Linked DNA regions of Homo sapiens. The protein of the gene in region 1 interacts with the protein of each later gene in a pairwise test. Each region holds a gene or a part of one and is shown on either strand. Other genes may lie near its edges. The genes, in order: TMEM237, PNLIPRP1, SERP2 and SLC35B4.

Region 1 (7,749 bases):
GGCTTCACTGACTCATTTAAACTTAATACCTACCCTGTGTGCAGAAAAGAGTTAATATAGCAGACCTGAGACTGCTATCCTTGGAAAAGCCTGCTGATAAGATTGGCCGTTAGCTGGCATCTGGGAACTTGGATGATAAACAGCTCCCTACACTGATAGAAAACTTTCCCTAAATTATAAGGTGACTCACGGTGCATTTGTGCACACATAGTGATTTTTGCTGAACATCTGTTTCCCTTCCGGGCATCCAGAATTTTGGTATGTGCTAGGCTTATGTGACTAGCCCCTAACCTTGGGCACTGTCTCTGATGAGCTTCTTTTGTACAACATGTGTCACATGTGTTGTCACAACTCATTACTCTCCAGTAATGTTAGTACATCCTATTTGACTCCACTGATAGAGGACTCTTGGAAGCTTGTACTTGGTTTCCTCTGGACTTGGTCCATGTACTTTTTCCTTTTGCTGATTTTGCTTTATATCCATTTGCTGTAGTAAACCATAATTGTGAGTGTGATGATTTCCAAGTCCTGTGAGCCCTTCTAGAAAGTCAGCGAACCAGGAGATAATCTTGGGAATCTTCAGCACAGCCTGGGTATTGGGTTACTTAATTTTTTTCCATATTGTTTGGCATTACAATTTCAATTTTTACATTGAGAGTTTAGAAGTATAACATTTTTAAAAAATTAAAAATTTGTAAGATAGTGAAAACATTTTTGCCCAATTAAAATTCTTGAAGTTCTTTTCTCTTATACAAGTCTTGTACATTACTTTTCTTTTTATGTTTTAGTTATTTGAAAAGTTAAATTTATTTTGTTTTCAGAATTGGAGACTTCCTCCACCCAAAAGAAGTCATCTAGTTCATCTTTATTACGAAATGAAAATGGTATTGATGCGGAGCCAGCTGAGGAGGCAGTTATTCAAAAACCTCGGAGGAAGACAAAGTAGGAATTTATTTATTCTTCTAACTATTCTCCAGGATTACCCTGATGCTTTGTTTGGAGCTCCGAAGCAGTAGCTTCTCATTAAGTCTTATTACATACTTGTATTTGTGTACCTCTAGGATAAGTATTATTACAAAAAATCAGTTAAACCAATCGAATGATAAATTTCAGAAGAGTAAACCACTGAGAAAATAAAAAAAATTAAGATTGTACTTAAATAAAAAAACTTAAGAGCCATCTCTAAAAAAGAAGAACACAAATAGAATATATAAGTAGCAAAATTAAACATTAAGGATATTTAAAAATTAAAGATAATGAAATAGGCTATTGTGATTTATTTTCTTATGTTAACAGAATTCAAATTATGATTATTTTAGGAATAAGTAAAACTGGGTTTTAGCATTAAGATAAAATGAGTAGTGTACTTTAAAGAAATAACACTGGAAGTCATATATATAGCACTATTATTTGTATTTGAAAATGAACCTACAAATAGTGATCAATGTCTGTGTTAGTCCGTTCTCACACTACTAATAAAGACATACCCGAGACTGGATAATTTATAAAGGAAAGAGGTTTAATTGACTCACAGTTCAGCATGACTTGGGGGTGCCTCAGGAAACTTACTATCATGGTGGAAGGTGAAGCAAACACACCCTTCTTCACAGGGCAGCAGGAAGGAGAAGAATTAGAGCTGAGTGAAGGGGGAAGCCCCTTACAAAACGATCAGATCTCCTGAGAACTCACTATCACCAGAACAGTCCCTTGACAGGTGGGGATTATTACAATTCAAGATGAGATTTTGGGTGGGGACATAGCCAAACCTTATCAGTATCTATACAGAATCATACAGTTTTAAATTTGGAAAGAAGCTTACAGATCTAGTTCAGTCACTTCAATTTTCAAATGAGAAAACTGAAGCCCTCAGAAATGTAAGTAACTTGCTGCACATAATAGTTAATAACCGATTTATTTGAGTAAAAACCACATTTCTTAACTCCAAGTCCAGGGCCCTTTCCATTATATTTATAGCTAGTTCCTTATGTAAGTCTGTAAAAAATTCAATAATCATCTATTTTTCATACATACGTCCTTATTACAGGAAAACCCAGCCAGCAGAATTACAGTATGCCAATGAGCTAGGAGTAGAAGATGAAGACATAATCACTGATGAGCAAACTACTGTGGAACAGCAGTCTGTATTCACTGCACCCACTGGCATTAGCCAGCCTGTAGGCAAAGTATTTGTGGAAAAAAGCCGTAAGTAGATGCCTTGTTTTAGAATATGAACTCTTTAAAAATTGTCCAAGGATATCCTTTATACTTCTGGAAATCTGAATTAAGGAATTAAGCAAAACTGTGTACAACAATTTATACACAAAACTGGTCATCATGCTATGATTCATGAGAGTGAAAAACTGGAAACAACCTAAATGTGAAATAGGAGAGGAATAATGTCAGTAAGTTGTGGTGTATCTATATAATAATGTTCTTCACCATTAAACATAATGTTTAGGGAGAATTTTTCATTTTATGGAAAGATTCTGATAAAAAATGAGCATATACACATGTGCACACACACACACACAGTTTGATCTATGCATAGGACAAAAGACTTGAAGGAAATAGGCTCAAATATTAATGCTGGTTGTTTCTGGATTTATGGGGTTATGGGCAATGTAAAGATCTTCCCCACCCCTGCCTGATTCTTTATTCTTTCTTGTACTTTACCAGTTTGCTGCAATTGGTAGTAGTTGTGGTGGGACAGATAATAATATAAATTCTACAATTGACAATAAGAGAAAATACATGATGATACTACCATATTAAATAAGAAATACAACATTATAGCTGTATATTCTTTTGCAAGATAGTTGTGACATTGTATAATGTATACTAGGTTTGCAGTGTATTTTAGCTCAGGCTGCTATAACAAAATACCACCGACTAAGTGGCTTAAACCACGGACATTTATTTCTCATAGTTCCTAAAGCTAGGAAGTGCAAGACAAGGTTCCAGCAGATTAGGTTACTGGAGAAGGCCCCTTCCTGGCTTGCCGACAGCTGCCACTGTGTCGTCATGTGGCAGAGAGAGCTCTGGTGTGTCTTCTTCTTCTTAAAAGGATTATAATCTCATCATGGGAGCTTTATCCTCATGACTTCATCGAAATCTAATTACCTCCCAGTGACCTCGCACTCACTGGGGGGTTAGGGCTTCAACATATGAATTTTTGGGGGACGCATTCCGTCTATAACACAGTGTTTAAGAAAAACCTACTCAAAGCATGATCATGACTATATACTACCATGGATATGTTAAGCATATGCTGCCTAAAGAACTCATCTGAAACATAAAGGTTAGTCCTTAAAATTTACAATTTAGATTTTGTGTACCTTGTTTTAGAACCCTACTTCAGAAGATCCCATTTAAGGGATCTTGCAGTTCTTGGCCAATAAGAAACCTGTGGTCTAGAGAGGCTGACTTACCCAGTGTCTCACAGTTTGGTTAGGGTGGAACTGGGACTTGAACTGTGGTTTTATGACTTCTAGTCACATGGTTTTATTCATCTACCACGTGGTCATTTAAATTACCGCAGTTCTTTTTCAAGCAGTATCACTTAATCCTCATTTTTATTCTTGCTTCACTTAGCATAGAAATTTCCCTGCTAGAGTAACTGGCCATAAAAGGTACCAGTGGTTCTATTGTCTGCCCAGAAGTTGTCTTTTCTTAGGGAAAATTGTCACACCCCTGTCTTTCATCCTCCAAAACACCTGCGAACTGGGTTTGGTGAGGATAATTGAAATGGAACCTTTCCTGTTTCCTGAGGTCTATTTGTGGATTACTAGATATACAAGAAGGAGCCTCTGAATCAACAGTAAAAAGGCTAAAGCCCTGCTCATACAATATTGCAGTGCTGACTTTTGAACTGATGTTCTTCACAGGAATGTTCTAAAGAGAAATTTATGAAGCAGCCTATTTCTTTCCTGTCATCCCAGAAAGCCATGCTACACATCCTGACATCTTTTCCTAAGAAATTTAAAGTAGTTTTCAAATATTGACTTACCTTGATAGTATAGGCATATAAACTTTAATACTTCTAAAGTCTCTAAATTAGAATTTTGTAGACTAGGTCATGTTAAAGATTTCTAGACTTTATTCTGAGTTGAAAGTTCATTTTTTTTTATTAAATATAATTGATTTCTGAAATTGTTACTTCACTTTGGATTGAGAAGAAAATACACTGACATCGCTTATTTTTCTTCAAGATGAAAAATTATGTTTAAGGAACCCCAAGAAAAGATCCTTCTGAAATAGGTACTGAGTCAAGGAGAATTTTCAGATAGAACAGCAATATTTCAGTCTTAGTTTGCGGCTTCCTGAGTATGGAATTTAAAAAAAAAAATGGCTACCAGGGTTCTCTCTCGCTAGTTGTTAGTAATTACGTTATGTGTTCTTAGGGAGATTCCAGGCTGCTGATCGTTCAGAGTTGATAAAGACCACAGAAAACATAGATGTGTCAATGGACGTGAAGCCTTCCTGGACCACCAGAGATGTGGCACTTACAGTGCACCGGGCTTTCAGGTGGCTGCTTTTGTTGGACTTTTCTTAAAATAAATGTTAACTGAGTTCTGTAATTAAAGAAAAAAATAACCTCTTGGTTGTTCAGTATTATTAATGAAATCACAACTTAAAATGGTAGGTAGGTATATTTTTTAAACATCCTATTGGAATTGAGTGATCTACCTATCAGTGTAACTAAAAAGAAAGAGCTTGCTTTTACTTGTCATGAAATGTTGAATTTTATTCTTGTATATGAAGAGATTTTAAACATGTTTTAGCTTTTTACTTTAGTAATTCATGTATAATAATCAAACCCTTTTCCATTCAGGATGATTGGTCTCTTTTCTCATGGATTCTTGGCTGGCTGTGCTGTGTGGAATATTGTTGTGATATATGTTCTAGCAGGAGATCAGCTATCCAACCTCTCAAACCTTCTGCAACAATACAAGACCCTAGCGTATCCATTCCAGAGTCTTCTGTACTTGCTTTTGGCTCTGAGTACAATTTCAGCTTTTGACAGGTAATGCCTATGACTCCAGATCTGTCTAACTTCTTCAGGAGGAAATGCTGAGCAAAATGTGTCACTGACCATGATAGTTTTCAAAATAGAATTATAGAGTATCAATGTTACTTCAAAAAGTTTTAAGGCCAGTCTACTTCTGTTCTTTTTTGAGGGGATGAGACCATTGTAAACAAAATATTCCCAAAAGACTTCACCCATTCCAGCATCAATTCATAAGTCCAAAATTTCATCCAAATATAGTCAACTCAGAAGTTCCTAAATGTCATCTAAATCAGGTATAGGTGAAACTCAGAGCATTTGTATTTGTCTCCTAGCACTGCTGTAACAAAGTACCACACACTGGCTGGCTGAAAACAGCACATTTATTCTCTTATGGGTCTGGAGGCGAGCAGTCTGCAATCAGGATGTGGCCAGGGTTGATTCCTTTTTCCAGGGCTCTGAGGGAGAGTCTGTTTCATGACCTTCCCCTCACTTCAGTGGTTGCTGACAGTCCTTGGCATTCCTTGGCTGTAGATGCATCATTCCAATATTTGCCTCTATCGTCATGCAGCACTTTCCCCCTGTGTATCTCTGTATCTGTGTCTATTCTAATAAGGACAGCAGTCATACTGGATTAGGGTTCATCCTAATGACCTTATCTTATCTTTATTACATCTGCAAAGACCCTGCTTCCAAATAAGGTCACATTCATAAGTACTCCAGGTTAGGAGTTCAACATATCTTTTTGGGAACACAATTTAGCCCCTTTTAAAAAAAATCCACCGAGTTAGAGCCCAATGATATGGGTAATAGAAAGAGGTAGAAACTAATGAAATTTTATAGATCAAGTTTAATTTTCTTTAGGATGTTTTAACCCCAAAGGAATGTTGTCCAAAGTAGTCTAGTTAGATGTTTTATGTGGCCTTTGTAAATTAGATAATTTTGTCATGCGTGTTAAGTATACACTGTAGCTACTTAAAACCTAGTAATAGTATATGTGCTAGCATTAGACTAGAGAAGGAAAAAACTATAGTCAAGAAAGTAAAGTTTTGTTAAGTTTACAACTGCGCTGTGACAAGAAACTTTTATATTTTCTAGGATTGACTTTGCTAAAATATCAGTAGCAATCCGAAATTTTTTGGCCCTGGATCCTACAGCTTTAGCATCTTTCTGTGAGTAAGCAGTTTAACATGATAACTGTGTAATACTTCAGTTATACCATAATTTTGAACCAGGATAAATATAATTTTTTTTAAAAGTTGTATTACTGCTCCTTATAAACATTACCTATAGATGTTCAGTGAATTTGTAATTAGAAACATAAAAGGCATAATATTGATAGAATTATTTTTTCAATTGAGGTTCATCTAAATAACTTTGAAAAGCTTAATTTATTGTACTATATTACTTACTTTTTAACTTTTGTATTTTCTACTTGACATTAAACAGATTCAGCGGGTATGGCCTTTTAATAACAAACAATATTTTATATCTTTCTGATCATTTGGAATGCATTTTGTTCTAAGTTTTGAGAATATTAATAAAACTAGTTTTAGGACCTTGAGCAAGTCATTTAACTTTTAAAAAGATGTTCTAGGTTCTTGTCAGTTCTAATGATGAAATAGTGAACGTCTCAAAAGATCCTTCTGCACCTATTGTTCTCAAAAATTTATATAAGGATGTCTGGCCTATTGAAATATATTTATTTGGTCAAATAAATTTCTTTTATATCATCAGTCATGAAAGTATAGATTATTTTCGATATTAATCTATAAATTCAAAATAAACCAGGTTGTTAAAAATTATTAGTAATTTCATTTGTCTTTTTCTCAGTGTACTTTACTGCTCTTATACTATCTCTGAGTCAGCAAATGACAAGTGACAGAATCCACCTTTACACACCTTCTTCTGTTAATGGTAGCCTCTGGTAAGAATTCACAATGACATTAGCAATTGTTAATGGCAATAACAGCAACTTTTCTTATCCTTCCATTCTTTTTCAACTGCAAATAATGAAGGCTCTGTTTTTGTTTCCAAATATATGGCAAGAAAATACTTATTCCTTTGGTTAATGGGTAACTATTGTTATGTCCACCTGCATTTTTAATGAAATATCTTCCTTTTAAAAATCTGTTTTAGATCTTCAAGTTATAGTTTTTTTTTTTTTCGAGATAGAGTCTCGCTGTGTCACCCATGCTGGAGTGCAATGGCACTATCTCGGCTCACTGCAGCCACCGCCTCCTGGGTTCAAGCGATTCTGCAGTCTTAGCCTCCTGAGTAGCTGGGATTACAGGCACCCGCCATCATGCCTGGCTAATTTTTGTATTTTTGTAGAAATGGGCTTCACCATGTTGGCCAGGCTGGTCTTGAACTTCTGACCTCAGGTGATCCACCCGCCTTGGCCTCCCATATTGTTGGGATTATAGGCATGAGCCACTGCGCCCAGCCAAGTTATAGTTCTAAAATAAGTCATCATATGATGGACGGAAGGAGCCCTGCATTCTTACCCCCTGTCAGGGAGTTTCATATCCCAGAACAGTGATGGGAGTGAGTAGCTGGGATAGATTCAGAAAACCAAGCAATGCTAGAAAGAGCGGAACAGGGAGAGCCAACATCTGCAGATCAGCGGCCAGCCATGAAGCTGACAGGATGGCTGAGATTATAGTTCATAAAACTTAGAGAAGCAGTCTTTTTTTTTTTTTTTTTTTTTTTTCCCCAAATGCTGCACGTAGCATCCAAAAGTA
Region 2 (7,642 bases), on another chromosome or scaffold:
TGAATGCTATGAGAAAGGCAAACTGATTCCCCCTCCAGCTTGCAGATTAATTGGAAGCTGGCTACTCTCTGGTTTCCTTCAACCAAATTCAGTAAGGTTGGTTAGTAAGGGAAAAACAATTGCATCATGAAAAGAGTCCTGTTTTGAAAAGGAAAAGTCTTAGGTGCAATCTCCGGTGGCCAGTGTCTAAATGACCTTGTGGATTTGACTGTAAGGGGTCCTTTCAGGCTCTTGGCGATGCCCCAGGCTGCTGGAAAGTGAGAGAGAAGTTTCACTATTTTTATAGTCACGATGACACAGTACTTCATGGAGTAGACACATGTAGATATTTGAAAAATAGAACTGTACTGATTTAAAAGAGATTGAAGAATTCTGGAAGGAAAATGTCTTCCTGGATGTCAAAGGAGCTGATATATCTTTAGGAGTTCTGCCAGGCAGTACATATTACCAGCTTGAATTTAAAATGGTACTATAAATTTAAAATGCACTTGGAATCATTCCACATATAGTATACTAATATGTGTGATCACATGCACAGAGATAGTGGGAGTTTTCTCCTCAGGACTTTTCTTTTCTTTTCTTTTTTTCTTTCTTTTTTTTTTTTTTTTTTTGAGACAGCCTCATTCTGTCGCCCAGGCTGGAGTGCAGTGGCGCGATCTCAGCTCACTGCAACCTCTGCCTCCGAATTTAAGCAATTCTCCTGCCTCAGCCTCCTGAGTAGCTAGGACTACAGGCGCCTGCGACCACACCTGGCTAATTTTTGTACTTTTAGTAGAGACAGGGTTTCACCATGTTGGCTACGCTGGTCTTGAACTCCTGACCTCGGGTGATCCACCCGCCTCGGCCTCTCAAAGTGCTGGGATTACAGGCATGAGCCACTGCGCACCTGGCCAGGACTTTCATTTTCAAGCAATCCTGAGGAAACTTTCACAAGCCTGGAGAATTTGGAGTATAAACTGTATCAATAAGATGCTTATTAATGATAGGACAGGAAAGGTGCCAAGAGTGAAATGCCTGTTAAACCAAGGGCAAGTGCAGAATGACTTTAATTTTCTGGGTTTGTAATTTTTCCTTTTGACATTACTGGTTGGTGTTATTAATGTATGTGTGGAAGGCAGGCTCCTGGGGTAGGTAAATTCTTAGGTGACAGAAAAATCGATTGAACTAGTCTCCACATAAATAGAAAGGATGATGGTATATTGTGGTATATTGCACGCACATGTGTGTGTGTTTGTGTGTGTATGCACAAGTTGCACACATGTCCATGTATGTATGTGTGTGTGTGCACATGTGTGTATTCTTCTGTTGCTCTCCTTCTGACCTATATTACATGTAGGTGACACTTTCTATTCTGTCATTGTAGTAACTTAATCTTAGTTTTCTTTTTTTTTTTTTTTTGAGATGGAGTCTCACTCTGTTGCCCAGGCTGGAGTGTAGTGGCACAATATTGGCTCATTGCAACCTTTGCCTCCTGGGTTCAAGCAATTTTCCTGCCTCAGCCTCCCAAGTAGCTGGGACTACAAGAGCCTGCCACCACAACAGGCTGATTTTTGTATCATTAGTAGAGATAGGGTTTCACCATGTTCGCCAGGCTGGTCTCGAACTCCTGACCTCAGGTGATCCATCCACCTTGGCCTCCCAAAGTGCTGGGATCAATTAAGTGGTCACAGCAACACATGTCAGCCTCTCAGGGATGTGGGAAAAATTTGAACAAAGAAACCCCTATAGTCCCTCGCTTATAGGATACAAAGTACCCTCACTACAAATGGAAGCAGAAAACATCAGGCCTTGGTTTAACCAGAAATTAGGTAGTAGGAGTACTTTTCTAACAGCAAATGTGGTTGCTTCAGTGTGCAGATGTAGTGCGGAAACATGGAAAGGCATTTTAATTTTTGTGAAGAGAAGCATTTTAATTGCATAAAGTTACCTAATATGTAAAGATTTCTTGAGTGCATAAAGTGATGCAGAGATGTTAGCAGAAGTGTTGGCCTCAGCTGGCCACAGGGATCAGAGCTGGCTCCTACCTTGCACATGTCTGTCACCCAGCTCTCATCTCCTTTGTCTATGAAGCCATGGATGATGAACCGGGTCTTTCTGTCCATTTGAAAATTTGATGCCTCAATTGTTGATGGATCAGAGAGGAGGAGAATCTGTGACAGACGCAGAAGTGCTTCATGTTTTCGCAGCCCAGCCTCACAGGCCTTTTTCCTTCCTCATCTCCGCCTGCGCCAATGCCTCTACTTTTCAAAGCTTAGCAAAAAGCCACTTCTTCCATGAAGCCCACCCTGATCTCCCTTTTCTTGCCCCATCTCTCCAGGTGAGTAATCACTGCTTCCACTAGGCCTGGATTGTGGTTTGAGGTTTTACCTTCCCTGTGGTTTTTGTTAGACAGTAAGCTGTTTGCCCCAGACCAGAATCACACAGTAGCTAGAGGTTCTGGCAAATGTGAACCATTCATTCATTCAAGCCAACATTACTAAAGACCTGCTCTGTCTAGGTCTAGCTAGGTCTGGGGGGCAGCTTGAGGGATGGGGTGGGGCATGGTGGAGGAAGAGGGCACAGAGATAAGGTATTCATGGTCTGCAGGGTGGGCATAGCCCCGTGCCAGTTACAGTGACATTTAAATGACAGAGGTCTCACTTGAAAGTTGTTTGGGTTTTCATTGGTGTACAGCAGGAAGCGGGTGCCGATCTTCTCAGGGCTCCAGGGGAGAATTTTCAGGGGCCTGATTGCTGTCCCGCCCCAGGGCTCAGTGTCAGAAAAGCACCCGAGGTCCTCATAGCAAACTTCTTTTCCTACAGAGAAAGGTTGAATCTGCTCAAGGATTTGCTCTCAAGGTGTGCTCTGGGGTGTCACTGCTGTTCGGGCCTGGTCACTCTTCTATTCAGGGACAGTCTGAAGACAATGGATGAACCTACTGCAACCCCTCCCACTCTCTTCTTGACCCCAGTGCCCACCTACTACTGGCCGGTAGTAGTATCAGTCCCATTGAATCCCACAGGGACACCACTGGAGCCTTTGTTTAGAACTACCCTCAAAACTGGAAAGTTCTAAGTCCCATTCCTAGCTCTTCTGATACATTTATTTGACCAATGTGATCATGGGCATTGATAAGTCAATATGTTAACTCAGGCAGATGTTTCATGCTTTACCTAGAAATGTCTGGCCTTGGGCACCCCGAGCATGAAGGTAGGCCACTGGGGGGATCCCCAGAAACAGGTCTCCCTTAAACTGCCCAGCCTACTCTCCCAGGCAGAGTGTCAGCCCACATCTTCTCTCTGGTACCCTGGAGCTGCTGGGAGCCCTGCCACAGTTAAAGCTTTCTCTGGCCAGGGCTGAGAGCTTAAGTTTAAGCCCTTCCTACGGGGCAGGAGTGGTGTTTCTTACCTTTGGCTGCTCCCAGCAGGAAAAGTGTGATTGTCCAGAAGATCAGCATCTACAATAAATTTAAACATAATTCAGTCTCACCGGGCATTGCCAGAGCAGTGAGCACCGACGCCCTGGACTTCAGTACTGTTTACCTCACCTGTACGTCACAGCAGGGGGAAAGGAGTTGCAAAGGTGGCTTACCCTGTCTAATGTTCCAGATGTTCCCTCCCACCGGATCGAGTGTCCAGCCCTTTCTAAAAATATATATTCCAGCCTTATCATTTGGACACTACTTCAAGAAAACAGCAGGTGATTATAGCCCATGCTGTGCGCACTTAATACTTTAATCTGCCCAAATACACAAAACAAGATTAATAATAGCTGTCAAGTCTTCCCACAAGTCTGGAAATATGACAGAATGCTTGGTTAAAGCAGGGAGTGAAGTCACCAACCTTGTACCTATGTAACTATGCATGTACTTGTGAGCTGAATGGGCCCTCACTTTTCAGTTTTCTATTTCATCACCAAATAGTTTACAAGTCTCAATAGGGACACAGCAGCAAACCCTAATGATAGAGGATAGTATTTCTCATTTAGAATAGATGAAAATACCTGCAATTAGTTGAAAGTAAAGAGAAATCTCTGATTAAGAAAACTTCTTCTCTCTCTCTCTCTCTCTCTCTCTCTCTCAATCTTCCTCTCTCTCTTTCGAAGACTAGGAATACTGGGCATCTGAGCTTTGGAGAAAAATTCAACAGCCCTCACAGTAGCTTCTGACCACAATCCTCCCATTAACTGCCTATTCCAGTTATATATTGCTATGCAATGAACCAATCCAAAAGACAACACTTTAAAACAATAGCAATGATTGCATTATGCCACTGTAATCTCAATAGTTGGGTTCAGGAGCCCCCAGAGGCCCATGTCATGTCTGTTGAGTTTCCCCAGGTCCTCTGAAGGTTGCACACCTGCAGATAATTCTTGGACCCTGTAAAGCCATCATGATATAACCAGAGACCTCTGCATCTGTGAACAGCCCAGCCAGTTCACACAGCAAGGCAGATAAGCCTTCACAAAGCAAACACCATGAGTGCCTCCCCTTGCCAAGTTAAATATGCCTCGGTGTCAAAGTTCTCAATCTTAAATAACCAAAACACAAGGGTGCAGGCCTAAGGGCCTTCCTCTTAAGAAAATGGAAAGGACTCCTGGAATCATAAAGAATAGCTGCCAACTGTTACGAAGCCTTACCAAGTACAGTCAGAATTCCAAGCACCTTACGTGTATTACCTAATAAGTTTTAAAACAATCCCATAAGCCTCTCTTTATAAATGTGGGAACTGAGGCACAGAGAGATAAGTAAATTGCCTAAAAAGTCACACGACTAACGAGTGATGAGGTAAGATTTGAATTCAGGCTGTACAGAGTTGTTGAATATTCAGTTGTGTTGAGCTAGTAATCAGCAAGCTTCACTGGATGTCAACCATGTAGAACAAGAGGGATACACAGAATGAGTCAAAAGAGAAAATGTGAAAACCCTCTTGGCCCTTGACCTGTTTCCTCCCTACTTCCAGGCATCCCCAGGATGGAGAAACAGGCTAGACTTGGTGATGGACTGGGAAGGTGGTCAGAGTTCTTCATCCCTTCCTCCTGTACACACACCCTTTGCAATGTGATCTTGCAGCTCCTTCCATCAAGAAGTGGAGTTTATTTCTCCACCTCTTGAATCTGAGCTAGACATGGTATGACTTGATTTGGTCATTAAGTGTGGTAACAGCAACATCTTTGAACAACTCAAAGCCAGCTGTCCCCCAAGTATGTAAAGGACCCAGCCAAGATTAGTGGCACTGCCTACTCAACCCACTGTAACCACAGAGGCATGAGTAAATCCAGCCAAGACCAGAAGAACCACCCAGCAAACTCAGATTTTTGAGCATGGATAAATGCTTTAATTCAGTGCTTTAAGCCACTGAATTGGTGATTGTTTGTTATGCAGCAGTAGCTAACCAATACAGGAACCCAAGCCAGGCCTGGAATTCAGAGACAGCAGCACCTGTTGCACTCACTGTTACTATTCTTTAGCACACAGCACCAGGTTCGAGCATACCCTTTCCTAAGACAATGAGGAAACTCCGTGCATCAGTCAATATACACTGTGCTCCAATGCACTGGCTCCTGTTTAAATGCTCTAGGGGATTTAATTAGACTAAGCCTCTAGCAAGGCTGAGGTTCAAGCTGCTTCTCCTTCACAGGCTGTCAGACAATTTATTCATTCCACACCAGATGGAAAGATTTCTGGGTGAGTCTTTCAAACAACAATAACAACTGGAATTTCTTTTTTTCTTTTCTTTTCTTTTTTTTTTTTTTTTTTTTTTTGAGATGGAGTCTTGCTCTGTCACCCAGGCTGGAGTGCAGTGGCGCGATCTCGGCTCACTGCAAGCTCCACCTCCTGGGTTTATGCCATTCTCCTGTCTCAGCCTCCCAGGTAGCTGGGACTACAGGTGCCCGCCACCACGCCCAGCTATTTTTTTGTATTTTTAGTAGAGACGGGGTTTCACCGTGTTAGCCAGGATGGTCTCGATCTCCTGACCTAGTGATCCGCCCGCCTCGGCCTCCTAAAGTGCTGGGATTACAGGCGTGAGCCACTGCGTCTGGCCAACAACTGGAATATTTTGATTGAACTTACATCCAGTTTCAGGGTCACAAGTAAGGATTCATAGGCATACAAATCTGTGGATCTCTTTTTGAAACCATGACTTCATTTCCACCAGACAGCTCTCAGGTCTTCAAGACGTATGACTCATTGAAGGTCACAAAAGTAAAGAATGAAGTCACCAGCCATTATCTGTTATACATACATGTGTAGATGAAGCCCAAATATCTGCTTTCCTTCAGGCAATCAGCTCTGTCCTTGTTTGCTCCTTCAATTTTAATTCTGGGGGAATGATAGAGTTGGGTTCAAGGTGGGTTTTCGGAGTCCCTTAATTTTAGAGAAATGTTTGTTTTGAGAAAGCTGGTTTTTAAATCTCTTCCAGAGCCTAGAATCAGACTGTATTACATTGAACTATGTTTCTAAATATCCCATGAACTGGCAGACTCTCCCTCTGTGTGTTGTAATGGAAGTAGGGTACAAGAACTTGCCTCATCATTAGTCAGCTATTGATTTCTTTTTCTTTTATTAGAGATACCTGTCTGTGGGAAGTGAACTCAGCTTCTGAGTTTCACCTAGAGTTCTCAAAGTCCTTGATGACCGCTGGTAGATCTCACCGAGGCCAGACAAACCCTGGTGCCAGTTGGAGTGCATTAGGTCCAAAAGTCTGCGCTCCTCTGTAGGGGTCCTTGGCATTTCCAGAACAACTCCCAGCCTTCAGAATCTGGGTGCTGTGAAGTTCTGCAAACTTGAATGACGATTAGATAGGGAAATAATCAGAACTTGCTCTCCATACAAGTATCAAAACGGTTGATTTACACCCAAAACTTGGCTGAAGCCACTTTTGGGGGCCTCTGCTTGTCCATGAGGAAGTCCTCATCATCCAGCTGCCATGGACTTCGGAGACCAGGAACTGGGTCTTTTTTTTGCTCACTTCTGTGTCTCCAATGCCTAGCGGAGTGCCTCACATATGGTAGGTGCTCAGCACATGTTTGTGGAAGACATGAATGCTTACTCAAGGACCATCCTAGTCTTGTCTCCTACAATTCTCTTCTCTGAATACTGCCCAGAAGCCATAACAAACTGTCTTCTTAATATTAAAAGAGCTAAGCTTTTAAAAACTGTGTAACTTTTCTGTACTTACCTTTAGTTGTTTCATAATGACCAAGATCCTATTTAAGAAAATGTTTTAGGTCTTTTGACATTTCTTACAAACTTCTGAAATTCTAATTTAAGTCTTTTGATCTCAGAATGACTTTGGGACATACTAGAGGGTCCCTGGAGCTTCTCAAAGGAAGAGACATATTAAACCAATTAGGCTTATTAAATACATTAAATTATATGGGAAACATTGTAAATAAGAAATTATATTTAACCTTCTTTTAGTTATACTTGTATAAATATGTTGTTTCATGTTCCACAAACTAATAAATTCTTAGAAATCTAATGTGTTAGCAGCTGTAATTTTGGTTATTATGTTAAACTGTTATATGCTACAAAACAACCACATTTCCTTGTGAATTGTGTCACTATTATAATGAATTCTCATCTTTTAACGATGGTCATTTTAAGTCCTGTTATTCACGCACAGATCATTAAATAGTTAATTGTTTCCTTTTTTTCTTT
Region 3 (8,749 bases), on another chromosome or scaffold:
AGACTTAAGATGGTTGATCACATCTTGCATTTTAAAGCTTAATCTGATCACCTCCAGGGTCAAGGAATTACATAGCTATCATAATGGATAAAGTCTGTCTTGTGCCACCACTTGTGGACCAAAGTTCAAGCCTTTGAGGTCTGAAATAGTTTATCTTTGTTCTGCAGCGTGGGGGGTTGAGGGGGGGTGGCGGGGCGGGGTGAGGGAGAAAGAGAAAGAGACAGAGAGAGAGGAGATTTATTTTCCGTGCATGTATAAGCTGCTCCAAAGCTCAGCCATGAGGGTGCCCTGTTACCCTGGCTCCCATTCAAGTTTAGCTAGTAAAGCTACTTTTGGGAAAAATGAGAAGTCAGGAGGCCACAATTCTGCTTTCAGGTCTGCTACAATTCCCTTTGCAATTCTGAGGCTTTTACTCATTTGTGAAATTTGGACAATCTCACGACATTTACTTGTCCTCTCCACAAAACTTAGAGCTCTCTAAAGCAGACATTCTTCTAGCAACCATTGAATTCTCAGTGTCTAAAATAGTGTCTGGTATATAGCAGACACTCAATAAACACTAAACGAATGAATAAATGACTGTCTGGGTTTCCTTCCAGTTACAACATAACATGATTCCATAAAATCATAATCTAGTGCATTGAGTTGACTCCAATGCATGTGGCAGATAACATTTGCTATCAGCTTTCTTGATTTTCTCTGCCCACTATTGAGACAACTTCATGAACATTTCCACCAGAATGTAAGTAACATGTATAAAAGGAGATGACCTGAGATTTGCCAAATTTTCCTCTTTTCTAGCCGTACTGAAAATGGTTTGGAAAAAGAAGAAAGTATTCATTTGAAGTGTCGGTTATCTGCTGGTTTTATTTACACAGGGTGTGCCTGTCAACCACTCCCATCCATAATTGAGACCAGCCACCCACAGCACCTGTCGTCAAGGCCTCTATACTCAGTTCCCCTTAGTGAGATAAGGTGAAGAGAGACCACTAGCTAACAATGTGTGAAAGCTTCAAGTGACATGACAGTCACTCCAGATCTGGAAGGGGAAATGACAAAGGAAGACATTCTGGTTTTTTGTTTGTTTTCATGTACATGAGTCAGGGTTCTTGGTTGTAAATAAGACAAACTCACTCTGGCTGATTGAAGCGGAAGAATTTATTGTAAGGATTTCAGGTACCACGGAATAAAAAGGATACTGTCACTGGTTCCACCATGATTGCTAGGTACTACCAGTCTCTAGAAACTCGACCACCAAGATGAATTTTAACGTGTCTCTGTCTTTGCACCACTTGATCAAGATTCACAGTTCCCAAAAGGAGAATCTCATTGGCCAGATCACACGCCACCCTAGCTGTGAGGGGTTGGGAGACCAAGTATGTGGCCCCCTTATGCTCCACGGTGGGAAAGAAGGTCCTAAGACTCTCACAGTGATGGAGTGCCCCAAATATAAAGAATGTTTGCATGCTGGTCAGCCACAGAAAAATGAGAGATGTCCAATGCATCACAGTTTAGTAGTGTAGCATCATTTATAAAGATGGGTAAAACTCAGTCTGTACAGCCACACATCCAGTGCCCTAAGTGGGGCAGATTTATGATTAATGGGCATAGGCTTGTTAGGATTTCTTGCTCTAAAGGCTGAAAATTGGCTGGGCATGGTGGCTCACACCTGTAATCCCTGCATTTTGGGAGGCTGAGGTGGGCAGATCACTTGAGGACAGGAATTCAAGACCACCCTGGCCAATATGGTGAAACCCCGTCTCTGCTAAAAATATAAAAAGCCAGGCGTGGTGGTGCATGCCTGTAATCCCAGCTACTCAGGAGGCTAAGGCAGGAGGATCACTTGAACCCGGGAGGCAGAGGTTGCAGTGAGCCAAGATTGCGCCACTGCACCCCTACCTGGGCGACAGAGTGAGACTCTGTCTCAAAAATAAAAATAAAGGCTGAAAATTTTACCAGCCAAAATTAAATTTTAACCAGTTAGCAGTTTCCTGGCACTTTGCCCATAACAATTTTAAAAGTTGTGGTTGAGCACTGCATGCTAGTGGTATATTACAAAACTCCATGCTGCCACCATAGATGAACCCAGGAGAAGTTCTCCTTAATCAAGTTTCCATTTTCCCCTCCTAAGTCCTCGAAAGAGCAAGACGACTCCATGCTTTGCTCCTTCGTAGTCTAGTAGTGACTCTGGAACTCCAGGAACACAGCTTATAGACTTTAGCCCCAGCTCCCCACATAAGGGTCTGGAGGCTGAGTATAAGAAGGGCCAGGATCCATGCTGGGAAACTGCTTGGTCCATGATGGTGATCCTCAAGGCAATAAACAGGACTGAGACCTGCAGAGGAGCTGGCCTGACTGCAGAGGACAAAAGCAGGGGTGTGAGCAGGTAAAGTGGAGGTCACAGCACGAGGTTTCTTCATCCAACCAAGGACATAAAAAGTTGCAGCAATTTCACTTCCAGGAATCTAATTCCAGTGTTGTGATATAGGAGAAACCAAAGTGTTGTCTCCCACTCTCACACAGCCAGCACACTTTTAACACTAGATGTGTGGGGGATGTTTCCCCTCATACCAAGCAATTCTGCAACAGACACCGGCTGGGTGTCCTTTAATTCAATTCAATTCTGGCACTATGTACCTGGAAATAGCAGGGGCTCAGGGTTTGATCCTATGAGACCGCCCCCCATTTCAGATGCCAATCCCAGGTAGTAGGTTGTCTCCTGTACCTCTGCCTGCCCAGCTATAAACTGGAGTTCCCCCAACCCACTCCTTGTTTGGACTAATCTGCTAGAGTGGATCACAGAACTCAGTGAAACACTTTACTTCTGTTTGCTCATTTATGAGGAAGGATATTACAAAGCATATAGATGAACAGTGAGATGGAAGAGATGCACAGGGCAAGAAATGTGGGAAGGGCTGTGGCGCTTCCATATCCTCTCTGAGCACGCCACCCTCTAGGAACCTGATGTTCTGCTCTCCAGAACTCAACAAACCCTATCCTTTGGGCTTTTATACAGGCTTCATTGCATATGTCTGATTGATTACATCATTGGTCACTGGTGATCAACTTAACTTTCAGCCCCTCTCCTCTCTGTGGAGGTCTGGGGGGACAGGGTGGGACTAAAAGTCCCAACCCTCTAATCCTGCCTTGATCTTTCTGGTGACCAGTCCCCATCCTGAAGCTATCTAGGGTCTCCAAGTCACCAACCATCTCATTAGCATACAAAAGGTAAGATATTTTCATCACTCTGGAGAGTCCAAGGAATTTAAGAGTTTTAGGTCAGGAAACAGGGACTACAATCAAATATATATTTCACAATATCACACGCAGATATACCTGCACAAGTACACACTGATCTATGTACAGGGATATTCACTGAAGCATTGTTGGCAACCACAAAAAAAGAAAAACTGGAAATAATCATCCATGGTTACATCAGTTCAATATATTACTGTATAATCATACTATGAGACATAACACAACTACAAGAAAGAGGTCATATATAAGTGATATGATAATGTTGATATATTAAGTTAGAAGAGCACGTGGCAGAACAGTTTGCATACTACTATTCCGTTTTTTTTTAGAAGGGAATATACAAATAGTCTTGTATATACTGGAAGGGCAACCCAGGAACCGTGGGAACTTTTTGGGGAGGGTGGCAAGGAAAGAGAGACCTTTACTTTTCATTTTCTATCCTATTTCTGTTTGACTATTTACTGTGTAGATGTAGTCTACTCATAATTAAAACAAACTAATTTAAAATGCCGGAAAAGTGAAGCATAGCAGGAAAAAGGAGTCAACAGTAAAGAAAAATTTTCCCCAAAAGGGGCTTCTCTCAGTTAAGAACACTTCTGAACTGTACTCACTGAATGTGAAGACCCAAAGAGAAAACAGTCTCTGTCTGTGTCTTTTCCTTAATGTCGCTCAGAGCCAGACCTCTACTCACCTGGTGAGGACCTGGGTCAGTCTCCTGGTATTTGGACATGATCTGAGAGGAGTGAGTCAGGTAAAGGAACCTTCTGGACCACAGACAACAGCCAGGCTCAGCAGGGATCACTGAGGTAGGAATCCCCCCACCCAAACCCCTAAAAAAGAGCCAACAGTTATTAAAAACATGGGACTAGAGTGGGGCAGACTGGGTTTATGGTCCTGTTACAACAGTGGTGATGCTAACAGTTAAAAGACCATAGAAGCTTGTTTCAAATTAATTGGCCTGTAGAGTAGGAAAAAAAAAAAATGACTCTACTAATGATCCTAGGCAATTCTGTCTTCTAGGTTACAGCAAGCAGCCCCCAGAATGGCCTTTATTGAAGCCTGAGTGACAAGAAGCCTGTAGCGGGGTGAGGGGGACCCGCTTGGAAAAAGGCCCCAAAAGAGGAGCTCTTCCTAACTCTCCAATGACATGGGAAAATTTTACTCACACAAAATTCCCTGGAAACCCAGCCACCTCCCGCTCCAAGAGAAGGCCTAGAGATGCAGTGGCCAGAGACAGCCTCAGGCCTTCTTCCCCATGCTGGGGGTGCTGCTGCTTGCCTTCACCCCGACCCGGTATCCCCACTTCCCGCTGCCCCAGATCTCCCAGGCTGAATGTCCCCTCTTCGCCTCCACTCTTCTGAGCTTCTAAGAGCTAACTCCAAGTGAGGAACTGAACCCCTTCCACCCCTACCTCCCCAGGCAATCTGTAGAGCTCTTGAGCCCTAATACCAGTGTCTGGGAGGCGCGTAAACGCTTCCATTTTTATCCTTCCACTGCAGAAAATGCCCAGTTTAGTCTGGGAGACACTCAGACCCCTCGGGACAAGGGTGGCTAGAGAGAGGTCCAAGCTGCCCTGGGTGGGTGGGGAGTCAAGGCAGGCCAAAGCTTCAGATTTAGACAGTAACCACCAAATCCGACCTGGGCTGCAGGTCCAAGGCCTCTTCCTCTTTCCTGCATGCTCCGCTCTGCCGCTGGCCCATCTTCCAATGCAACCCCTACAACTACCAAAGCAAAAAGGCCTGTCCCAACTCCATCCTCACGGCCCGATCCCCAACCCTCAGGGGATGCCGCTTCGTGTCTCCTCTTTATTTTACAACGCGGCCCTCCTTGCAGCCCTCACGAAAAGTTCTGCAGTGGGGTCCCCCAGCGTGGGGCCCTTCTCGAGACCCTTAAAGAGAAGGCTCGTTTGGTGGACCATACCCGGGCAGCGCGGGCCCGGGCCTGGACTGGTTCTACTTGTGTTCTGAGGTCCCTGACCACCGCCTTGGGTCCAGCCCTCGTCCAGGGGGCGGCGGTGCAGGGGAGACCGCGCGGCCCGGCCTGAAGCGCGGCCGCCCTCATCCCTTCCCCGGGGCTGGGGTGGGTCACCGGCCGACAAACACAGGAGGGGCCGCGTCCCCGTCCCCGACGCGCTCACAAACGCCGTGGTCGCCCGAACCTTCGGCCCCGCAGCATTCGGCTACAGGACCGCGACACTGCAGGGCCCCGGCTCTGCGCGCTGCGCTCCGGCCGCTCGGCGCGGGAGGACGTGCGGTCGCGCCTGCCTCGGTGGCCGCGCGGGGTAGGTGGCTGCGGGGACCGGAAGGATGGCGAGGAAGTCGGAAAGGGTTTCCTGAGATGAGAGATTACTTCCGTCCGGGCTGCGGCCTCTCTCTGGAGTCGGCTAGCCGGGGCTCGGGGAGCGGGGTGCGCAGGGCTCGGGGCCACGCCTTGCCACCTGCAGCGCCCGGGTGGGCCGCGGGGGCCTCGGCGGGACGCGCTCGGCCCTGTCGCAGGAGCTAACGCAGGGGGAATCCTTGCAGGTGGGAGCATTTCAGAGCGCACAAGCCATGGTGGCCAAACAGCGGATCCGGATGGCTAACGAGAAGCACAGCAAAAACATCACCCAGAGGGGGAACGTAGCCAAAACCCTGGTAAGGCGGGGTCGGCGCCGGCCAGGCAGAGCCCTGCAGCCCGGCGGGGTGGGGCGGAAGGTGGGGGCGGGGCCGGGCGGGTAGCGGCGCAGGGTCCGGCCTCCCGGCTCCCGGCCCGCCCCTTCTGCGGGGTCCTGCAGAGTGGGGGCTGAGAGCTGGGTTCAGGGCGGCGCGGTCTGCTTGGCGTCCTCGTGGGCGGAGAGGGCCCTGGTTGGTCGTGGCCCCTCTGGGAGTGGCTACCTGGGCTACCAGGGAGGCGCAGAGGAGCCCTCCTCCCCGACCCGCACCCCCTGTCCCCCTGCCCGGGAGACAGCTGGGCCTTGTCCCGGAGAAAGACGGAAAGCCTCATCCTTAGGGGCCAGTTAAGTCAACTGCATGACACAGAGCCTGGAACCTAGTATGTTCTAGAACGTTGCATGACACAGAGCCTGGAACCTAGTATGTTCTAGAACGTTTGTTGAATGAATGAATGAATCAATGGCTAAATGGAGGCCACTTGTCATCTCCTCCCGGACTCCACCTGTCTTCCCTCCCCAACAGACTTGCACCAGGATCAAGTTTTCTTTCCAGCCCCTTTGTGACGGTTTCACTGGAGGTGTGGAAAGAGCTCAAAATGGGGAGTGAGATTTGGACCCACATTCCCTCCAGCCTCTTTTTTCTCTTTTACCTCTCTTCCAGCGAGACCTCCCTCAGCCCCTAGGCTAAAGTCTAAGGGCAGCATTCCTATTCTTTCCACTTGGTGAATTCAGACTCATTCTCATGGTATAACTTTAGAGACCAGTTTATTGTCAGGCATTCGGTGTCCCTAGAACTGTAAATTCAAGCTTTGCAACTGGACTTTTAAGTAAAACCTGTGCCTTACACTCAGGAGTTTCTTTTAGCAAAGCAGATTATCATCAACAGAAAATGCGAGGCCTGTGACTTTGGACATTCAGAGGCATGAGTCGCATGGGTAGTTTGGCGAAGTTGGTCTCCAAGTATATGAGCAAAGGCGCCTGGGATCTGTTACCCCGTACAGTTAAGTGGAAATCCAGCTGAAGCCTGGAGTTTGGCTGGGAAAGCTTGCAGATTTGATGAATCAATTCCTTTTAGCCAAAGAAACTATATTGGTTTGATTAACTAAGCAAAAAGCTAGATCTGTAATCATCACACCAGAATTCTTGCAAAACCAAGCAGTATTACGGCAGAGAAACTCTAGGACCAAACTCAACTCTACTCAGAGCTTTATACACAAGTCTAAGCATAACTCAACTCTACTCAGAGCTTTATACACAAGACCTAAGTAATCCTTAAAATTCTCTCATTTAGGAATTATATCACTCAGTTGTGATTAGGCAGCAAAATGCCAAGATGCCATCAAATTGGAACCATTTTGTCACATTGATTTATGTTTTCCCTATTTTTACTGAGGAAAAAAAAATGGCTGCCCGGGTTGACATTGAGAAGCAACTTATAATTGATGTTAAGGCATGCAGGGTTTTATATCCCTAAGAGATCAATTCTTCCTTCTCAAGGGATCAGACCTGCTAACTGACACAGTGAAAAATAACTAGTCATGTGGCTCTTTTTCATGAACTAAAAAACCGGAGTTCAGTTGTCAGATCTCAGTTGACAGCTTATCTGATTACAAAAGTAAGAAGAAAACAAGAACTAATTTCTAAGGCTGTTGTATCTATTAGGTTCTGTAGACTCAGTGTCTGCCACCTCAAGTTCTTCAAGAAAACTAGAAAATGTTTGGGACCCAAAACAAAAATTATTAGCTCCAAAATAAAAGAAGAAAATGGAAAAATTGGGAAAACATTGTTTAAATACCTAGAAAAGGTACCAGTCACCTGCCATTCAACTCAATGTTCAGAGCTACATTTAAATTATATTTAATGTACAGTATGAGTTCATTTTAATATGCTCTGATATGTCATGGGGTGGCCCCCAAGAAACTCTCATAGTGCCTTGCACCTATAAGAGTTTTTAAATGGCCCAGCTAAATTTGTAATGAAAGGTTTCCAGACCAAGCCACAATCAATGTTTGCTTTGCATTGGTTGGGGGGATTTTGGTTAATGTTATTGTAAATAGATTACTATCCAATAGAAAAATGAAATTTTCTTTCAAAGAGAAACTTGATAAATCCTAAATCTCATGTTCTCAATTACAAGTCAAATATGATTATACTTTGTTAAAAGTAACTTGCAAAAGATCACTATTCAGGATGAAATTCATTAAATGGGAACAAGTATAGATTCCAACTGAAAATTCAGACTAATTGTTCAGAAATAAACTTCTTTAATTGTATGCAGATGCTTCAGTATTTTATTATTAGCTAATAGCTTACGGATAAATTAATATTATTCTCCCAGATAGCAGACTAATCCAAGAAACAAGGCCGGGCGTGGTGGCTCAGCACTTTCTGTAATCTCAGCACTTTCGGAGGCCAAGGCGGATGGATCACCTGAGGTCAGGAGTTCGAAACCAGCCTGGCCAACATGGCACAACCCCGTATCTACTAAAAATACAAAAATTAGCCAGGCATGGTGGTGGGCGCCTGTAATCCCAGCTACTCAGGAGGCTGAGGCATGAGAATGGCTTGAACCCGGGAGGCAGAGGTTGCAGTCAGCCGAGATCACGCCACCGCACTCCAGTCTGGGTGACAGAGCAAGACTCCGTCTAAAAAAAAAAAGGAAACAGAGAAATGGAATAATCATTTTGTGATTATACAGTAGTAACTTCTCCAGAATGAAGGGGGAATTTAAATTTCAGAGTTCTGAGTTACCCTACGGGTATCTTAATCACAGGGAAAGCCATTCCCTGACATTTTTGGAGCCTCAAGAAGTAGCAAACTCATGTTTGGAGTAAACCATGT
Region 4 (8,553 bases), on another chromosome or scaffold:
TACAAGGAAATGTTATGCAGCAGTAAGAATAAATGAGCTACAAATACACAAAGAAATGTAGCTGAACTGACAACATAATGTTGAGAAAAAAAAAAGAAGAAACAAAAGAAATATACTGCATGATTCCATTTATGTAAAGTGCAAAAGCAGACCAAACTTATCTTTGGTGCTAGAAAGTCAGAATAGTGCTTGCCCTTGGAGGGGGTTAGTGATTGGAATGGGGCACAGGAGCTGCTGGAATGCTGGTACTCATTTATTTCCTAACCTGAGTATTGGTTATACACCACTGTTCATGCAAATTCACTGAGCAGTACATTTTTGATGTTTACATTGTTAAAATTAGTCAAGCTGAAAAATATCATGTATTCATGAGGTGTGAATTATTTGACTACTTCAAGCTGATTCATTCAGTCATTGAATAGAAGGTATATGCACATATTATGTACCAGTCACCATGTAAGATGCTGAGGATCTAGAGATAAATTAGTTATTTGTGGATTCTGTTCATCAAAGGCTTAGTCTAGAGGGGGAGACCAACATGAAAACAGATAACTACAGTGCAACATGATTAATGGATTAGTGGGGGTATGGAGGAGTGCTGGAGGTATAGAGAAGGGAGCCATGAATGGTTCATTGAAAAGCAGCCAGGAGCAGTAGCTCATCCCTGTAATCCCTGCAATCCCTGCATTTTGGGAGGCTGAGGCAGGTGGATCACCTGAGGTCAGGAGTTCGAAACCAGCCTGGCCAACATGGTGAAACCCCGTATCTACTAAAAATACAGAATATATATATATTCTGTATATATATATATATATATATATATATATATATATATATATATATGCCAGGTGTGGTGGTGAGCACCTGTAATCCCAGCTACTCAGGAGGCCAAGGCAGGAGAATCGCTTGAACTCGGGAGGCAGAGGTTGCAGTGAGCCGAGATCGTGCCATTGCACTCCAGCCTGGGCAACAAGGGCAAAACTCCCCCTCCAAAAAAAAAAAAAAAAAGGAAAGAAAAGCTACACACAGAAAAGTGACATCTTAGCACAGCACCTTCCTCCTGCACAATATAGAGGTATCCACTGACTCTACTGTCCTCTCTGGCCACCGTAAAAAGATGAACAGGAGTTGGCTAAAGAGAAAAGGATATTCCAAGCAGACAGAACAGCGTATGCACAGATAAGAATTTTGAAAGTTACTGTAAACTCAGGGAAGAGAGTGAGTTTATGTGGGTGGAGCCCAGGTAACCCTAGGGAGAGTGACACAAGGTAAAACCAAAGAGGTAAACTAAGGCTTGATTGTGATGTTTATATGCCTTCTACTAAGCGTGGCTTTTACACAAGGAATCAAGAACATTGTATATAGCTAGACTTCAAAGACGTCCCTCCCACACAGACACAACTGATGATTTTGTTAGTTTTCTCCCACAGTGAATCAGGCTTGGTCCTATGGAATCAATAGAATGTGGTACAAGTGGCACTGTGTGACTTCAGAAGCCACGACGGCTTCTGACTTAATATCTTGGAATGCTTGTTCCAGGGGAAACAAGTTACCATTTAAGAATTCCAACTATCCTGAATCCACCATGTTGTGAGCAAGCACAGCCTAAGAGACACCATGTCAAGAGACTTGCTCCTGCCATCTCGGGGATCAACCCTTTCAAGCCTTCAGGGAACTCCAACCCCAGCCTACATCTGACTGCAACTGCATGAGAACCCCAAGAGGACAGAGCAGCTGTGTGCTGGGCACAGTCAGCACACAGAACCTGAGTGAGAAATACAGTGTGTGGGTTTTTTTATTTGTTTGTTTTGCTTTGAATCACTACAGTTTGGGGTGGTTTGTTATGTCGTACTACACAATTAGAAAAGACATCTTAGAATAGCAATGGGACATGAAGATTTTGGGTTTGTTTTTGGAATCAGCCTGGAGGCAGCAGGGAGGATGGGTTAAAGAACACAGAGGCTGAAGGCACCAAGATGTTAGGAGGCCTTTACGGGAGAAGAAGTGGATGTCAATGGGAATGGACAAGAAAGGCTGGAATCTAGAGATACTTGTGAGGTGGAACCGATGGGATATAAAGAGCAAATAAATGTGCAGTGGAAAAAAGAGGAAGACCGAAAACTTTCAGGTTTTTCCCAAAGAGAAGAAGTAGAGTACAATGTTCTTAATAGAAATAAAGGCCTATTAGGGAGGGTAGGTAATGAAATGTGTATGCCCTAATGGTGAGGGGTTTACAGGGAAACATTAGTGAACATTCCAAAGACACTGGAAATTTTGATTAAGGACACAAGGGAGATGGGGGCTGTACATAGACACACACGCAGGATCACTATTCCATATGGCAGTGGTGGAAGTTCCAGAGGTGAAATCGCCAAGAGAACATGTGCAGGGCAATGAGAGGAGGGAATAAATGATGGAACTCTGAAAGGAGAACCCAGTGGTCAGAGGAGGAGAGCCCATTAAGGAAACTGGAAAGCGTAAGTCAGAGAAGTCAAAAGAGAAACAGGAGACTCATGTCTTATAAACAGAGGGACAAGAGAATGTCAAGAAATATTGGGTTTTCATTGTAAAAAGCCACTGCCAGATCAAGTAAGGTGAGACTGTGTTATATGGTTTTCACAATTAAGAAGTCATCACGGCTCTCAACAGGACTGCTTTTAATACCCTGGCATTGATCAGAGTAGTTTAAGAAGCTGATTGGAGATTTAACAAGTAGAGACTACGAATGTAGATTACTCTTTAAAGAGAGTTGATGGTAAAATGAGGGAGGAAGAAAGATAAGTTAGTTTCTTTGAGCATGATTTTGGTCTGAGAACAGGTTTGCTAGCAAGAGTTCTCTGAGCAAATGAGAGGGGAGGATAGAGAGGTCTTCAGAGTTAATGATTTTACAGGCTTCTGCTCTCCAAGTGCAGTCAACAGGTCAGTAGCACCAGCATCACCTGGGAGCTACTTAGAAATGCAGAATCTCAGGCCATGCTGCAGGCCTAGTGAATCAGAATCTGCATTTTAACAAGATCCCCAAGTGATTAACATGCACATTAAATTAATACTCACTGCAGTAGGTGAAGACAGAAATGTGGAGGAAGGAAGAAAGATACAGAACTCTTGCAAATATTACAGTACTCAGGCCATTTTTTTCTTGTGCAATCACTTAGACATGCTTGGGTTTTTATCTGAGATGTAATGAGAAATGTTTAGAACATCCTTTAAGGGCTTCCAAATTAGTGGCATATATGGAAAATGAAGGTCTGTGTGAAGAGAAATCACCTCTAATGAAATCCAGATGAAAATCCAGACCAGCTTCCTGTTGGCAGGATTATTGATAGTGGAGGTGGAGATATTATCATTGCTTCAGCCTCACTCCCAGATAGTCCACTTTACTTGGTCTGAGGTAGAACTGGTACTATTATATACCTGTATATATACCAGTTATATATATATATATATGTGTGTGTGTATATATGTGTATATGAATATAACTGGTATATATACGTGTATATATGTATATATAATTCATTGTTTAATGTGCCAGCACTGTGCAAACTCAAGACGGGTGCTCATTAAATACTGAATTTCACAGGTAGTAGGCTTTCTATTTATGTTAGTTCTTCTTCCTACTCACCTTTTTAAGGCAGCAGTTCTCAAATTCTAGAATGCATTAGAATTAGAACGTGGAGTGCTTGTTAAAAATACAAGTTTCTAGAACCCATACACAAGGATTTTGACTTGGTAGGTCTAAAGCGAGACCCAATAATCTGCACTCGATAACGAGTACTTCAGATGATTCCAATGTGATCTCCCAGTCACGGACTGGGAAAAAAGCATTCCAAACTATTTTGTAGATCTCGAGAAAGACTTCAGAATGTTCGTGTCTCACAGGAAATAGCAAAAACAATATAGCATTCCAAAATCCTACCTAGCTTTGTACCGTGTACTTTGCTATTGCTGTTGGATTCAATTACAACGGAAATATTTGATGTGGTAAAATACTGAGCAGTGATGCTAACCTTTTATAGTAGACACTGGGAAGCAGAAAGGAAGTGTAAACACGTTTCCCTTAAAAACTAGTCTTGCTGGGTGGATAAAGTGTGCATACCTATTTTACAAATAAAGAATAGTGCCGCACTAGCTTATGTACGTAATATGTGCTTAACAAACATTTGTTCATTGAGTAAGTAAGAGTCAAGTCGAATGGCTCAGATTGTAAGTGCTATGAGAATTCCACTGTAAGAAGAGGGAAGTATGCCTTCTTTTCACCATTAAAGATCTGATTGCTGATATTGGCATTTTTGCCAGTAGAAGAGCCTGGACGTTGGCAGTTTTCAAAGCCCCCAGGTGATTTGACTGCGCAGCTAAGTTTGAGAACCACGGAGGTAAAGGAAGGGAGTACCTTAAAGAGCTAGGATTAGGGATAATATCAATAGATCACCTTTAAGGCTGCACCTCAGCCTAATTAAATCAGAATCGCTGGGGGTGGGACTTGGCTATCAGTCATCTTTAAAGCTCTCCAAGTGATTCCAATGTACAGACGTGGTTGAGAGCCATTGCTTTACTTGAATTCTCAGTGGTTCTTAATCCTGGCAGCATAATAGAGTCACCAAAGATACATATATATATATCAGTTCAGGAAGCAGAGTTGTTTCAGATGCTAGAACACCTCCAACGAGCAGTCACAGCTCTGTAGTTCTAGTGCCGCCGCTGCCAGCAAGTTTGTTGTGACCCTGGCGGCCGAGTTACTTTCAGCGCTCTGGGCGGTCTCGCAAGAAACACTGACGCTTTGGGACTTCATTTCCCAGCAAGACCCGCGGCCGCCTATCGCGCGAGTCATGCCGGGCACCTCGTCCCCCTGTCCTCTCTGGCGGAGCTGCCTGGCGGAAGCGGGAACGTCGCATCCTGAGGTAAAGGTGCACGGCATCCTGGGACATGTAGTCTGGCCGGGGCTCGGACGCCCCCTCGGATGAATGGGACCGAAGCTGACTGCGAACTACAGCTTCTTGGCAGCGTCGGTGTTGGCCGCGGGAGAAGGGGAGACCGCGGCGGCCCCCAGTGAGAGCGGCTTTCCAGGACGGTGCGATGTGCTGCGCAGCGAAGAGGCAGGAGGCCGGCTTCCTGGGGTAGCGGTACAGGCGGGCGCTTACTCTGTGCGCTTGCTTCCCCAACCCTGCACCGGCCATGCGCCCGGCCTTGGCGGTGGGCCTGGTGTTCGCAGGCTGCTGCAGTAACGTGATCTTCCTAGAGCTCCTGGCCCGGTGAGTGACCCGCTCGGGCCGCACCCGGTCTCCCGGGGCGGGGCGGAGGAAGCCAGAGGAGAGGTCCCCCCGGGACGCGCCCACGCCCTGTCCCCACCCCGCCGCCCACGGAGCCCGGGGCAGGACGGCCTGAGCCCCCCAGCAATCCGTCCTGTCTGGGCAGCCTGGGACCCCGCTGAGTCCGCTGCTTCCCAAAACTGCGCACCGGCGGCAGTCCCGCCTAACAGTTTCAAAGCATTCCTGCGAGGGGAAGACTCAGGGTGTTGCTGTCGTCACCCCTTTTCCACACTCGGGGGGTATTGAAGTCTGAAGAGTTTTTCACATGACCAGTCCAAGGTCGGCAGAGAGCTAGTGTCAGAACCAAGGTTCCTTCACCAAACCACTCTCTCTTCCTTCCCATCCAACTCTAGCTCTTTTTTCGATCCTGTTAAATGGCACAGGCTGGACTTGAGCAAAGGTTTTTGACTTGTAAAGCAGTCTGACTTTGTACATACTGCAAAGAAAGTTTTATTTTTATTACGGCATCCTGCAAAGCATTTGCTTTATTGGCCTTGGAAATGGTTATGAGTACTTTGCCCAAACATACATAAATGATGCGGTAGAACAGATTTTTATGTAGAAGATCAGTCCACGTGACCCGAGAGTGCTCTTTGAGGTGGCTTGCAAAAAGACAAAAAAAAAAGCAAGTAGAAGATTGGTCCAAGTGACCTGAGAGGGCTCTTTGAGGTCACTTTGAATGTGCAAAGTTCAGTGGATAGAAGCTATAACAGAAGAGACAACAGGTGGTGTGGAAAAGCCTCCAGGACTAAAAAGCTGGGTTGTGAATTTCACTCTTGGCTCCGTCGTCCACTGGCTGTGTAGCCCTTCAAGTCACTTAGCCTCTCTTGGGCTCCTTTTCCTGGCAGTAAAACAATACCTATAGTGTTCTCTAGCTCGTGTTTCTGAATCTATACATTACAAGTTGAGTATCCTTCATTTGAAATGCTTGGGAACGGGTGTTATTTGGTGTTTTTTGTTTTTTGTTTTTTTTTTGGATTTGGGAGTATTTGCATATACATAATGAGATATTTTACGGATGGTACCCAAATCTAAACACAAACTCATTTGTGTTTCTTATACACCTTATACACATAACCTTAGCTTGAAGGTAATTGTATACAATATTTTTAATAATTTGTACATGAATTAAAGTTTGTATACGTTGAACTATCAGAAAGCAAAGGTGTCAGGTGTGGAATTTTCACTTGTGGCATCATATCAGTGCTCAAAAAGTTTCATATTTTTTAGAGCATTTCAGAGTTCAGATTTTCAGATGAGAGATACTCAACTTGTATCTCTGTTGATCATCCGAACAATCCTGTGCAGAAGATTGGTCAAGAATTATAAACTGTTTTACTGAAGTGGAAATGGTCCAAAGAAGTTAGGTGACCCTTCACTACTTGTAAGTGGCAGAGCCAGAAATGGGACCCAAGATATCTAAGCTCCTAGTCCAATACCTTTTTCAACCTCCCTGCCAGTTTTGAACTTGAGCAGCCCATAGATTTTGGTCATCCAGTTCTTCATGTGGTGCCTACTAGAAGTTTATTTTATTTGATATCATTGATTAAATCATCCCAAAGCAACCAGTTTACTTAAGGTAAACTCTGTGTGGGGTTAAGTTTTGCTGTTACGGAGCTTGACATTTTATTGTACAGAAAGTGTTGATAAAGATCTGTTATTTGACTTGGGAATAGGTGATGAGGGATAAAAAATGAAAAAAAAATTGTATCCAACTGTAAATCTGATACACTTTTAAAGGAAGGCCACTTTGGCAACAATTGATTTGAAAATATAAAAAAGTTGGCCAGGCATGGTGGCTCACACCTGTAATCCCAGCACTTTGGGAGTCCGAGGTGGGTGGATCACGAGGTCAGGGGTTCAAGACCAGCCTGGCCAATATGGTAAGACCCCGTCTCTACTAAAGATACAAAAATTAGCTGGGCCTGGTGGTGGACACCTGTAATCCCAGCTACTCAGGAGGCTGAGGCAGGATAATCGTTAGAACCCGGGAGGTGGAGGTTGCAGTGAGCCGAGATAGCACCATTGCACTCCAGCCTGGGCAACAGTGCAAGACTACGTCTCAAAAAATAAAAAAAGAAAATATAAAAAAGTGATACCATCGGGCCAGCCATGGAAATGAAAGTCAGGGAATAATGGTAATATTTGTGTTGAATATGCCATTAAATTAAATCTTGCCAAAGGCTGTATGACATGAGAATATGCAAGCAACTGAATCCCCTCTTTACTAGTTTGTGAGCCCTTGACTGAATTACTTGATCTCCCTGAGTCTGACCCAACTGTAAAAGGGGGTGATGGTGATGATGGTTCTACCAGCTTCACAGAGTTTTGAAGGATGAAGTGAGATGCGCATGTGAAGCCTAAAGCACACTTGTAGGGCTTCCCATTCTGTCCAACAATTTGGTTTCAATACAGATATATTTCTTTAATATATAAAAGAAAGATATATTTCTTTTTTATATATTTATGGTCCTACAAAGTCGTGGACAAATCTAATTTTATAAAATATTTTCATGCATTATAGGAGCTCCTATTTAAAATATTTTGAATAATTTGTAAATAAATCATCACTTATCTTTTTTTTGTAAATCTGCATTTTTTGCATAAAACAATGGGTTTTCATAAAGTGGTGAGGAGGTGCATTTATTAAAATAATCAGTGGTGCACCAGACTGAATAGAGCCTTTTCCTAAGACAAGTCTCCACTTCTTGTGTTACAGATCAATAAAATAAGAGCTAGTTGAACCAGATGGCCTTAAGGTTCTTTCTAGATATGGCCTTGGAATTTGTGACTTTATCTTGGGACATCACAGTGGAAGCCCCATAAATTTTTATAGCCTAGGAACTGTGCTTTTTATATTGGCTGGCTTGGAGCCAGTAGGTGCCCTAATAAGTAGCAAGTATAACACTAAATATAAATGCTAAGTGACTTGCAGGAAGAAGAGGACATTTTTAACCATTTTCCCCAAATTGGAAAACAAACTCAGGCTTTTCTTTCTGATTTTTATCCCTATGATTGGGACCAATAATAAAACACAATGCAGTGGACAGAGCAGATAGGTAGTAATGGACGAGTGCCTTGATATTCCTCCTTAGGGAGCTTACATTCTACCTTGGAAACAAGATATACACACACCAGCTAACTAACTAGGCAAGATATTATTGCTTGCCTTACACCAGAAAAACAATCTGAAACATTTTTTTTCCTATTTTATTTTTCATTCAAGTGCCTGATCTTGAATTAAATA

What was found.
Region 2: the proteins of TMEM237 (region 1) and PNLIPRP1 interact in binary tests that used the Homo sapiens proteins (3 or more experiments, as listed by UniProt).
Region 3: the proteins of TMEM237 (region 1) and SERP2 interact in binary tests that used the Homo sapiens proteins (3 or more experiments, as listed by UniProt).
Region 4: the proteins of TMEM237 (region 1) and SLC35B4 interact in binary tests that used the Homo sapiens proteins (3 or more experiments, as listed by UniProt).

What each region holds. Positions count from the first base shown.
Region 1 is NC_000002.12:201,626,504-201,634,252, reverse strand, and holds part of TMEM237 (transmembrane protein 237), read left to right. Parts: intron 1-821; coding exon 822-942; intron 943-2,044; coding exon 2,045-2,202; intron 2,203-4,400; coding exon 4,401-4,524; intron 4,525-4,831; coding exon 4,832-5,023; intron 5,024-6,103; coding exon 6,104-6,177; intron 6,178-6,838; coding exon 6,839-6,932; intron 6,933-7,749. UniProt on the Homo sapiens protein: Component of the transition zone in primary cilia. Required for ciliogenesis.
Region 2 is NC_000010.11:116,586,924-116,594,565, reverse strand, and holds the start of PNLIPRP1 (inactive pancreatic lipase-related protein 1 precursor), read right to left. Parts: upstream 3,608-7,642; 5' UTR 3,571-3,607; intron 3,554-3,570; exon of another isoform or gene 3,527-3,553; intron 3,437-3,526; coding exon 3,388-3,436; intron 2,796-3,387; coding exon 2,641-2,795; intron 2,151-2,640; coding exon 2,025-2,150; intron 1-2,024. UniProt on the Homo sapiens protein: May function as inhibitor of dietary triglyceride digestion. Lacks detectable lipase activity towards triglycerides, diglycerides, phosphatidylcholine, galactolipids or cholesterol esters (in vitro).
Region 3 is NC_000013.11:44,368,219-44,376,967, forward strand, and holds the start of SERP2 (stress-associated endoplasmic reticulum protein 2), read left to right. Parts: upstream 1-5,605; 5' UTR 5,606-5,807; coding exon 5,808-5,891; intron 5,892-8,749. UniProt on the Homo sapiens protein: Interacts with target proteins during their translocation into the lumen of the endoplasmic reticulum. Protects unfolded target proteins against degradation during ER stress. May facilitate glycosylation of target proteins after termination of ER stress.
Region 4 is NC_000007.14:134,313,371-134,321,923, reverse strand, and holds the start of SLC35B4 (nucleotide sugar transporter SLC35B4), read left to right. Parts: upstream 1-4,993; 5' UTR 4,994-5,172; coding exon 5,173-5,249; intron 5,250-8,553. UniProt on the Homo sapiens protein: Antiporter that transports nucleotide sugars across the endoplasmic reticulum (ER) membrane in exchange for another nucleotide sugar.